Linked DNA regions of Homo sapiens: all the other regions are linked to region 1. The links come from fine-mapping of genetic effects on gene expression. A gene starts in region 1. Each other region holds a variant in brackets. All regions are shown on one strand. Distances are from middle to middle.

Region 1 (2,759 bases):
ATGCCCCCCAGCTTGCAAGCCCTTAATGGCTACCTGTGCCCAGCAGGATCCAGCTCAACATCCTAGGGCTCCCTCTCTGCCGCTGCCTATCTCTTTGGTCACACCGTCTGCCCCTTCAGGAGCGCTGAAGCCATTGGCTTTCAAAACTGGGCACATGTGCTCTCTTGCCCATCCCTCTGTGCCCCTCATTGCTCTTCTCTACCTGACTCAGATACTGCTGTCTCTGGCCCACCTCAACTCTCGAATCCAGTCGGATCCTCCTTGGTAAAACTCCCTACCAAGCTCGGCTTGGCAGGGAGGGCAGCTCTTTGGGTACACAGCTTGGGCTGGGAGTGGGTGGGGAGGCCCGGGGAGTTTATTCCTACCCCAGGCTGCCCTGATATCAGAGTCCTTAGTCGAGTCACCCATGGCTGCTGACCGCTGACCGACCACCCCCCACGTGGGAATGGAGGGCCTGCCTTAGGCATCAGACAGTCCTGGGTTCTCCTTCAGCCTCCCGCACTCGCGCTGGAGGCCCCCGGGCACTAAGTGACTGAACTTTTCGGGGCCTCAGGTCCCTCATCTCTGCCGCCGGCGCGAAGACAGCCGCAGGGACAAGCGCGCTTGTCCTCCCCCACCCTTGCCGGGCCAGCCTGGGGGGAGGTGCGAATCAATGGGTCCCGAGGGTAGCTGCACAGGGCCAGCCTGCCCCCGCCTCGGTGGGCAATGAGTAACCAGCTCCGCGGCCGGGGTGCTCTTTGGACGGAGCGGGACAAAAGGCCCTGTGTGCACTGCGGGTTACTGATTTACCGCCCCCTCCACCCCCTGCCGCCCGGCGGACGCCCAGGTCCCCTGCGCCGGGAGGGGCAGTCCCCGTAGCCCCGCCGCCTCTCGCCCCCTGGCGGCTGGGAGCGCAGCCCGGGCCCACAAGGGTTCCGGCTCACCTCGAGCCTGCGTGACTCCGCGCCCAGCACAGGGTCCTGCTCACCTGGCTCCTCCTCACCTGGCTCCTCCGCCGCCTCACTCCCAGCTCCAGCCGGCCGCGACCCCTGCACGCGGCAGGGTCCGCAGACAGCCCGAGCGCTCCTCGGCCGGGAGCGAGGAATGTACCCGCGACGGCGGCGTGGCCGCGAGCGGCCCACCTCCTGTCCCACCCCGCCCCTCGGGCCCGCCCCCTCCTGCTCGGGCCCGCCCCTCCTTCCACGCCCCCCCCCCCCCCACCCGGGCCCGCCCACCTCCTGCCACACCCCCTCGGGCCCGCCCCGCCTAGACCAGCTCGAGCCGGAGAGAGGTGTGGCCAGGGGTGGCCAAGATCCCCGCCCACCTGGAGAGCCCCGCCCCCGACCCAGTCAGCCCACTCCCGGGACCCCGCCCCAGCCTATACACACACCCCTACACGCAACCCCCCTATACACACCCCATTCAGGCTCCGCCTCTTTCGCCCCACCCAGGCCCCAGGCCAGGCTCCTAAATTCTAGTCTACTACCCAGCTCTACTCCTTGCTTTTCACCCTTCAGGGAATGCCTGGCTCCCCTGTCTTCTGCGCAGTGCCGTGCAGCGGATAGGAGAACCCCTTCCTTCTGCTCCCTCATTTGTTCCCTGCGCAACCTGCGGAGTGATACTTACAACACAAATCTGACTGTGTCAGCCACTCCCTTAAATTTTCCTATAGATTCCCATAGCTCTTTATACATAGATTGCCATGACCCACGCCTCCTGGCTCCCACCCTGCTACTCCTGGGCAGTTTCACGTACCATTCTCTCTTCCTGGAATGGCCCTTGGTCTGGTTAATTTCATATTATTCTCAGCTCACTTCCTTCAGGAAGCCCTCTGGACTTGCAAGCTCCTCTTAGATGACGTCTCTACTGTGAGGATGGAGAAAGAAACAGGGTGAAGTGGTTCAGAGCACAGACTACAGGGCTGGACGTCATAGGCCCAGCTCTCAGCACCATCACACAAGGCCTCAGTCTTCACTGTCCTTTCAGTAAAACAGGCAAATGATAGTCTCACCCACAAGAGGTTGTTGCAAAAAGTAGACATGTTAGCAGTATGTGTAAGCCTGGCATGCAGCGCTTGCTTTGTAATACTAGCTGTAATTATTTAGGACCTGTTATTTCTTCAGCACGCTTGCCAGAATTGTAACTGAACAGTTAATTATGTAAATAGCTGTGGAATGGCCGGGCACAATGACGGGTGCCTGTAGTTCTAGTTACTAGGAGACTGAGGTAGGAGGACAGCTTGAATTCAGGAGTGTGAGGCCAGCCCTGGCAACATAGTTGCCCTGTCTCTATTTTTCAGTAGAGGAACTGTGTCCTCAGACCTCACCATTAGAGTTCAAGTGTCTGGCATACAGTAGGTGCTCCCAGATAGCTCCGTGCCCACCTGGCTCATGTTTGCCTCACCTGTAAGCACTTCTCTCCTGAGCATCTAGACTGTGGCCAAACCAGGAGGCCAGGCAGCCTCTGATCTCTGCCCATCCCTCACCTGAATCTCAAGCCTTCTCCTTCTCTTAAGGCACCTTGAGAGGAAGGGAAATGGGCTGGGTGCACCTGTGGTCCCAGCTACTTGGGAGGCTGAGGCCAGAGGATTGCTTGAGCCCAGGAAGTCGAGGCAGCAGTGAGCCGTGATCGCTCCACTGCACTGTAGCCTGGGCAACAGGCTATGGAGCGAGACCCTGTCTGAGGCTCAGGTCCTGGTTGTCCCCTCTAGCTAGTGTAGACCCTGTCTTAAGAAGCAACTTCCTTTCTCATTGTTACGCAGGCAAGTCTAGTTCTTTCCA
Region 2 (2,759 bases), 35 kb after region 1:
TGTTCCTTGACTTACAATGGGGTTACATCTAGATAAACTTATTACCAATTGCTGCCTAGCAGTGCAAGAGAAGTACAGTTTCTACTCAACATCTATTGCTTTCACACCATCGTAAAGTTGAAAAAAATCATAAAGCTGAACCATAGGAAGTTGGGGACCATGTGTACGTGTAGTTTTAGTAGTTTTTCTTAGTACCAGTATCTCCTTAACATAACCACAACCAAAGAATGGGGGAGGCAAAACTTTAATGTAGGGGTCTAAATTCTGCTGATAGGAAGCAACCTTTTCTCTCTCAGGGGTTCACCTTTGTGGAGGTACAAAGTAAGAACTATCAGAACATGAGATTCTGATCTAATCCGCTAAGGGTCCTTGGCCCAAATCTGGCTTGCAGACAGGTCTGACTTACACAGGGTTTAAAAATAGTTTTTTTTTTTTTTGGCTGGGCTTGGTGGCTAATGCCTCTAATCCCACCACTTTGGGAGGTCATGGCGGGTGGATCACTTGAGGTCAGGAGTTCGAGACCAACCTGGCCAACACGGTGAAACTCTTGTCTCTACTAAAAATACAAAAAAAATTAGCCGGAAATTAGCCATGTGGGGTGGCACATAACTGTAATCCCAGCTACTCAGGAGGCTGAGGCATAAGAATCGCTTGAACACAGGAGGCAGACGTTGCAGTGAGGTGAGATGGTGTCATTGTACTCCAGCCTGGGAGACAGAGTGAGACTGTCTCAAAAAAAAAAAAAAATTGTTTTTTTGATACATGTTCTCGCTCTCACTCAGGTTGGAATACAGTGGCACAATCATATCTCACTTTAGCCTTGACCTCCTGGGCTCAAGTTATCCTCCCACCTCAGCCTTCCCAAGGTGCTGGGACTACAGACATGCGCCACATGCCCAGCTAATATTTAAAATTTTTAGTAGAGATGGGATCTCACCATGTTGGCCAGGCTGGTCTTGAACTCTTAGGCTCAAGTGATCCTCCTACCTTGGCATCCCAAAGTGTTTGGATTACAGCATAAGCCACTATGCCTGGCTGGGCTTAAAAATTTTTTAATTTAGTTACACATTTAAAAATCAGAGGGGCCGGGTGCAGTGGCTCACGCCTGTAATCTCAGCACTTTGGGAGGCCGAGGCGGACGGATCACGAGGTCAGGAAATCGAGACCATCCTGCCCAACATGGTGAAACCTTGTCTCTACTAAAAATACAAAAATTAGCCGGGCGTGGTGGTGTGTGCCTGTAGCCCCAGCTACTCGGGAGGCTGAGGCAGGAAAATCGCTTGAACCCAGGAGGTGGAGGCTGCAGTGAGCTGAGATTGCGCCGCTGCACTCCAGCCTGGGTGACAGAGGGAGACTCCATCTCAAAAAACACAAACGCAAAAACAAAAACAGA[G/A]GGATTTCTATATAAATCTGGCTTTCCAGAGTCTTTTGAAAACCTGAAAGAGGGCTGGGCGCGGTGGCTCACGCCTGTAATTCTAGCACTTTGGGAGGCCGAGGTGGGCGGATCACAAGGTCAGGAGATCGAGACCATCCTGGCTAACATGGTGAAACCCCGTCTCTACTAAAAATACAAAAAAATTAGCTGGGCATGGTGTCAGGCACCTGTAGTCCCAGCTACTCAGGAGGCTGAGGCAGAAGGATGGCATGAACCTGGGAGGTGGAGCTTGCAGTAAGCCGAGATCGCGCCACTGCACTCCAGCCTGGGTGACAGAGCAAGACTCTGTCTCAAAAAAAAAAAAAAAAAAAAAAGAAAAGAAAACCTGAAAGATATGGTAACAGCTGAGTAGGAATGGCATTCACTCTTCAGCTGACCATATCCCCTTCCTGGCTCTCATTTTAATTTCTCATCTGGCTTCTGTAGCCATCTGAGTTCGCAAACCCTACTTACAAGACCTAAGGAGGAAAAGCACAACGTCAGCTGGTCCGGGTAGCCCCAGTGGCCAAACCCTGGTCCAGCTCTGGGTGTGAGCTAGGCCCCCTCACCTGGAAAGTCAGTGACAGCAGGGTCCGCCAGCCGCCCATAGCGTGCCATTAGTTTGAGCTTGGTCTCCTGTTTTCTGTGTTTCTTGCCCACATAATGTTGTTGAGCCATGACAGGGTCGTTGAAAGTTGCATGGCAGAGGCTGCAGAACTTGTCTGGGTCTATCATCTCTCTATTCTGGTGCAAGGCTAAGGTGGAGGCCACAAGGAAAGGATTTGTAAGGCGTTTTGACAGAGCTGCAGTGAGAGAGTTCAAACAGAAACAATGAAAAAACCCAGAAGGTGTCAGGCTTTTGAGTATGCTGAATAGAAAGGGCTGTGACACCAGTTAATCCTACTGCAGATGTGGCACTGCCTGTGTGAGTCACACAGGTGAATGCATTCTCTAATTGGGAAACCTGGGAAGATTTGAGGGAGCCCAAAGACTGGCTATTTCATTCAGCGGCTTTAACTACTTTAAGCCCACAAATCCTGGTGGTTCTCATATTCTTAGGAGGCCCTGAGCTTCTCCTGTCAGGCTGCCAAGTTACAATAGACTAGAGATGCACACTTGCACTCTTGCAGGGATACCTCAGTACTTCCCAGAACTTCACAGCAAGTGGGACACGAAGTTTGGGAGTTTTATTCTCATCCTTAAAGTAATACAGTTGCAGAGCTGGGAACAAATGCACAGATACAGAAATTGAGGCTTGAGTTCCTGGAGCTCATACAAGGTCATTCAGAAAAGGTAACCATACTAGGGATGCCTTTTAGGCTACATTGCATATTATAGGCTGAGT
Region 3 (2,746 bases), 84 kb after region 1:
GAGGCTGAGGTGGGCAATTGCTTGCACCCAGGAGCTCAAGACCAGCTTGGATAACGTGGTGAAACCCAGTCTCTACAAAAAATACAAAAAATTAGCTGGGCTTGTTGGCACATGTCTGTAGTCCCAGCTGCCCAGGAGGCTCTGGTGGGAGAATTGCCTGATCCTGGGAAGTCGAGGCTGCAGTGAGCTATTATCATGCCACTGCACTCCATCACAGAGTGAGGCCTTGTCTCAGTAACAATACACGTGCACACACGGTACAGGAAACATTTAAATAGGATGGAAACTACTCTGTGTGAGAGGTTTTCCCAGTGCATTACGCTTCTCCAGTCTTCCCCCATACTCATCTCTGCTGCCAAGTACTACTCATGCTATACTCTTAGATTTAAGGATTACCTTAAGTTTTTTGTTTGTTTGTTTGTTTGTTTGTTTTTGAGACAGAGTCTCATTCTGTCGCCCAAGCTGGAGTGCAGTGGCGCAGTCTTGGCTCACTGCAATCTCTGCTTCCCGGGTTCAAGTGATTCTCCTGCCTCAGCCTCCTGAGTAGCTGGGATCACAGGCGCGCACCACCATGCCCGGGTAATTTTTGTATTTTTAGTAGAGACGGGGTTTCACCCTGTTGGTCAGGCTGGTCTTGAACTCCTGTCCTCGTGATCTGCCTGCCTCGGCCTCCCAGAGTGCTGGGATTACAGGCGTGAACCACCGCGCCCGGCCTACCTTAAGTTTTATATCCTCCATACAACTTTTTTCAGCCATATCCTTTTATATTACAATTACTACTCAAAGTATGTTTGAATTCTGTTGTTACACACCTGTCTCAAATTGAGACTGAGTATAAACTGGGATATAAAATATCAAGGGTGTGTGTTTATATGTGTGTGTGTGTGGGTATGCATTTACCTATTTTTTAAAATTATAGAAATAAGCTCATTGTAATTAGTTGATAAAGTGCTTCGTGGCACTTTAATTTTTTTTACCTTTAATTTTATCCTGTGCGTTAAATGCATATATAGCATTTAATAATTTAAATATACACTTTGTGCTCTTTATTCACTCAGCAAATATTTATAGGTGCGTATCCTGTATCAAGCAGCAGTTTTAGTTAGAGGAGATATAAGTCATGGAAATTGGAGTCCAGTTTTCATGTCAGGAGACAAAAGTGCAAGTGCCTACTGTGTTTGGGCAAGTT[A/G]CTTTTCTGAACCTGTGTTTCCTCATAATGATATATTCTGGTTTCTTAGGATTTATTGAAATATTCACTCATCAAATATTTATTATTATTATTATTATTTTTGAGACAGAGTCTCGTTCTGTCCTGAGCTGGAGTGCAGTGGCACGATCTCCGCTCACTGCAAGCTCCGCCTCCTGGGTTCATGCCATTCTCCTGCCTCAGCCTCTCAAGCTGGGACTACAGGCGCGTGCCACTACGCCCGGTTGATTCTTTGTATTTTTAGTAGAGACGGGGTTTCACCGTGTTAGCCAGGATGGTCTCGATTTCCTGACCTCGTGATCCACCTGCCTCGGCCTCCCAAAGTGCTGGGATTACAGGCGTGAGCCACCGTGCCCAGCCATATTTATTATTTTTAAAAACTTTTTATTAAGATATCATTTATATACAGTAGAGTGAACCCGTCTTAATTGTACAGTTCAATGTGTACACCCGTGTAAGTACCACCAAGGTATGGAACATTTTCAGAAGGCTCCCTTGTGTCTTTCCCAATCAGTACCCTCCAGAGGTAACCGATGTTCTGACTTGGATCACCAGAGGTTAATTGTTTTATTTTTTATTTTTATTTTTTTGGGAAAAGGTCTCACTGTCACCAGTCTGGAGTGCAGTGGTGCAATCATAGCTCACCACAACCTCGAACTCCTGGGCTCGAGATCCCTTCTCCTCAGCCTTCTGAGTAGCTGGGACTACAGGTGCACGCCACTATGCCCAGCTAATTTTTTTTTTTTTGTTTTTTTTTTTTTGAGACAGTCTTACTGTTGCTCAGGCTGGAATGCAGTGGTGCGCTCTCGGCTCACTGCAACCTCTCCCTTCTGGGTTCAAGCGATTCTCGTGCCTCAGCCTCCCAAGTAGCTGGGATTACAGGTATGTGCCACCATGTCTGGCTGATTTTTTTTTTTTTTTTTTTTTTGGGAAACAGAGTCTCGCTCTGTCGCCCAGGCTGGAGTGCAGTGGTGTGATCTCAGCTCACTGCAAGCTCCGCCTCCCGGGTTCACACCATTCTCCTGCCTCAGCCTCCCAAGTAGCTGGGACTGCAGGCGCCTGCTACCTCGCCCCACTAATGTTTTGTATTTTTTTTTTTTTTTTAGTAGAGCCGGGTTTTCACTGTGTTAGCCAGGATGGTCTCGATCTCCTGACCTTGTGATCCGCCCCCCCTCAGCCTCCCAAAATGCTGGGATTACAGGCGTGAGCCACTGCACCTGGCCCTCAGTTTATTCTTTGTCAAGATTGTTTAAACTGTTCTGGGGCCCATGCCTTTCTATATACATTTAGAATAAGCTTGTTTATGTCTACTAAAAGTCTTAGTGGGATTCTTATAGGAATTGCATTAAACCTAAGATAACGTTCTGTGCTCCCAAAGGTTGAAGAAAAAAAACAACAACCTAGGATCAGTTTGGGGAGAATTGATATGTTTACTATGTTGAAGCTTCCAACCTGTGGGCATGGTATGTCTCTACTTATTTAGATCTTTGATTTCTTTCACTAGTTATTCAAAAAACAAAACCCCATAAAACAACTTAC

Alleles and levels. Alleles are on the strand shown, and positions count from the first base shown. SD is a standard deviation of normalised expression in the study named. Not every link is listed here.
For the expression in cerebellar hemisphere of the gene that starts at base 1,086 in region 1, G is the low allele of the variant in region 2 and A is the other (large effect, 1.0 SD a copy in GTEx).

Evidence for each region. PIP is the estimated chance that this variant, and not a neighbour inherited with it, causes the effect.
Region 2: its variant is fine-mapped to the expression of FGFR4 in cerebellar hemisphere (GTEx, PIP 0.91).
Region 3: its variant is fine-mapped to the expression of FGFR4 in whole blood (INTERVAL, PIP 0.92).

The regions. Positions count from the first base shown.
Region 1 is chr5:177,085,242-177,088,000 of GRCh38, reverse strand. FGFR4 (fibroblast growth factor receptor 4) reads right to left here and starts at 1,086. Exons shown (of 18, transcript NM_213647.3): 1 at 924-1,086. RefSeq lists an enhancer at 570-1,020, silencers at 716-1,175, 1,426-1,475 and a promoter at 986-1,205.
Region 2 is chr5:177,050,161-177,052,919 of GRCh38, reverse strand. It overlaps ZNF346 (zinc finger protein 346), which reads right to left. Exons shown (of 7, transcript NM_012279.4): 5 at 1,984-2,169. Among named protein-coding and RNA genes, the nearest start is that of ZNF346, 29 kb to the right of the region's middle. The variant G/A (reference allele first, on the strand shown) is at 1,394.
Region 3 is chr5:177,001,341-177,004,086 of GRCh38, reverse strand. All of the region lies in intron 1 of UIMC1 (ubiquitin interaction motif containing 1), which reads left to right. Among named protein-coding and RNA genes, the nearest start is that of UIMC1, 4.1 kb to the left of the region's middle. The variant A/G (reference allele first, on the strand shown) is at 1,190.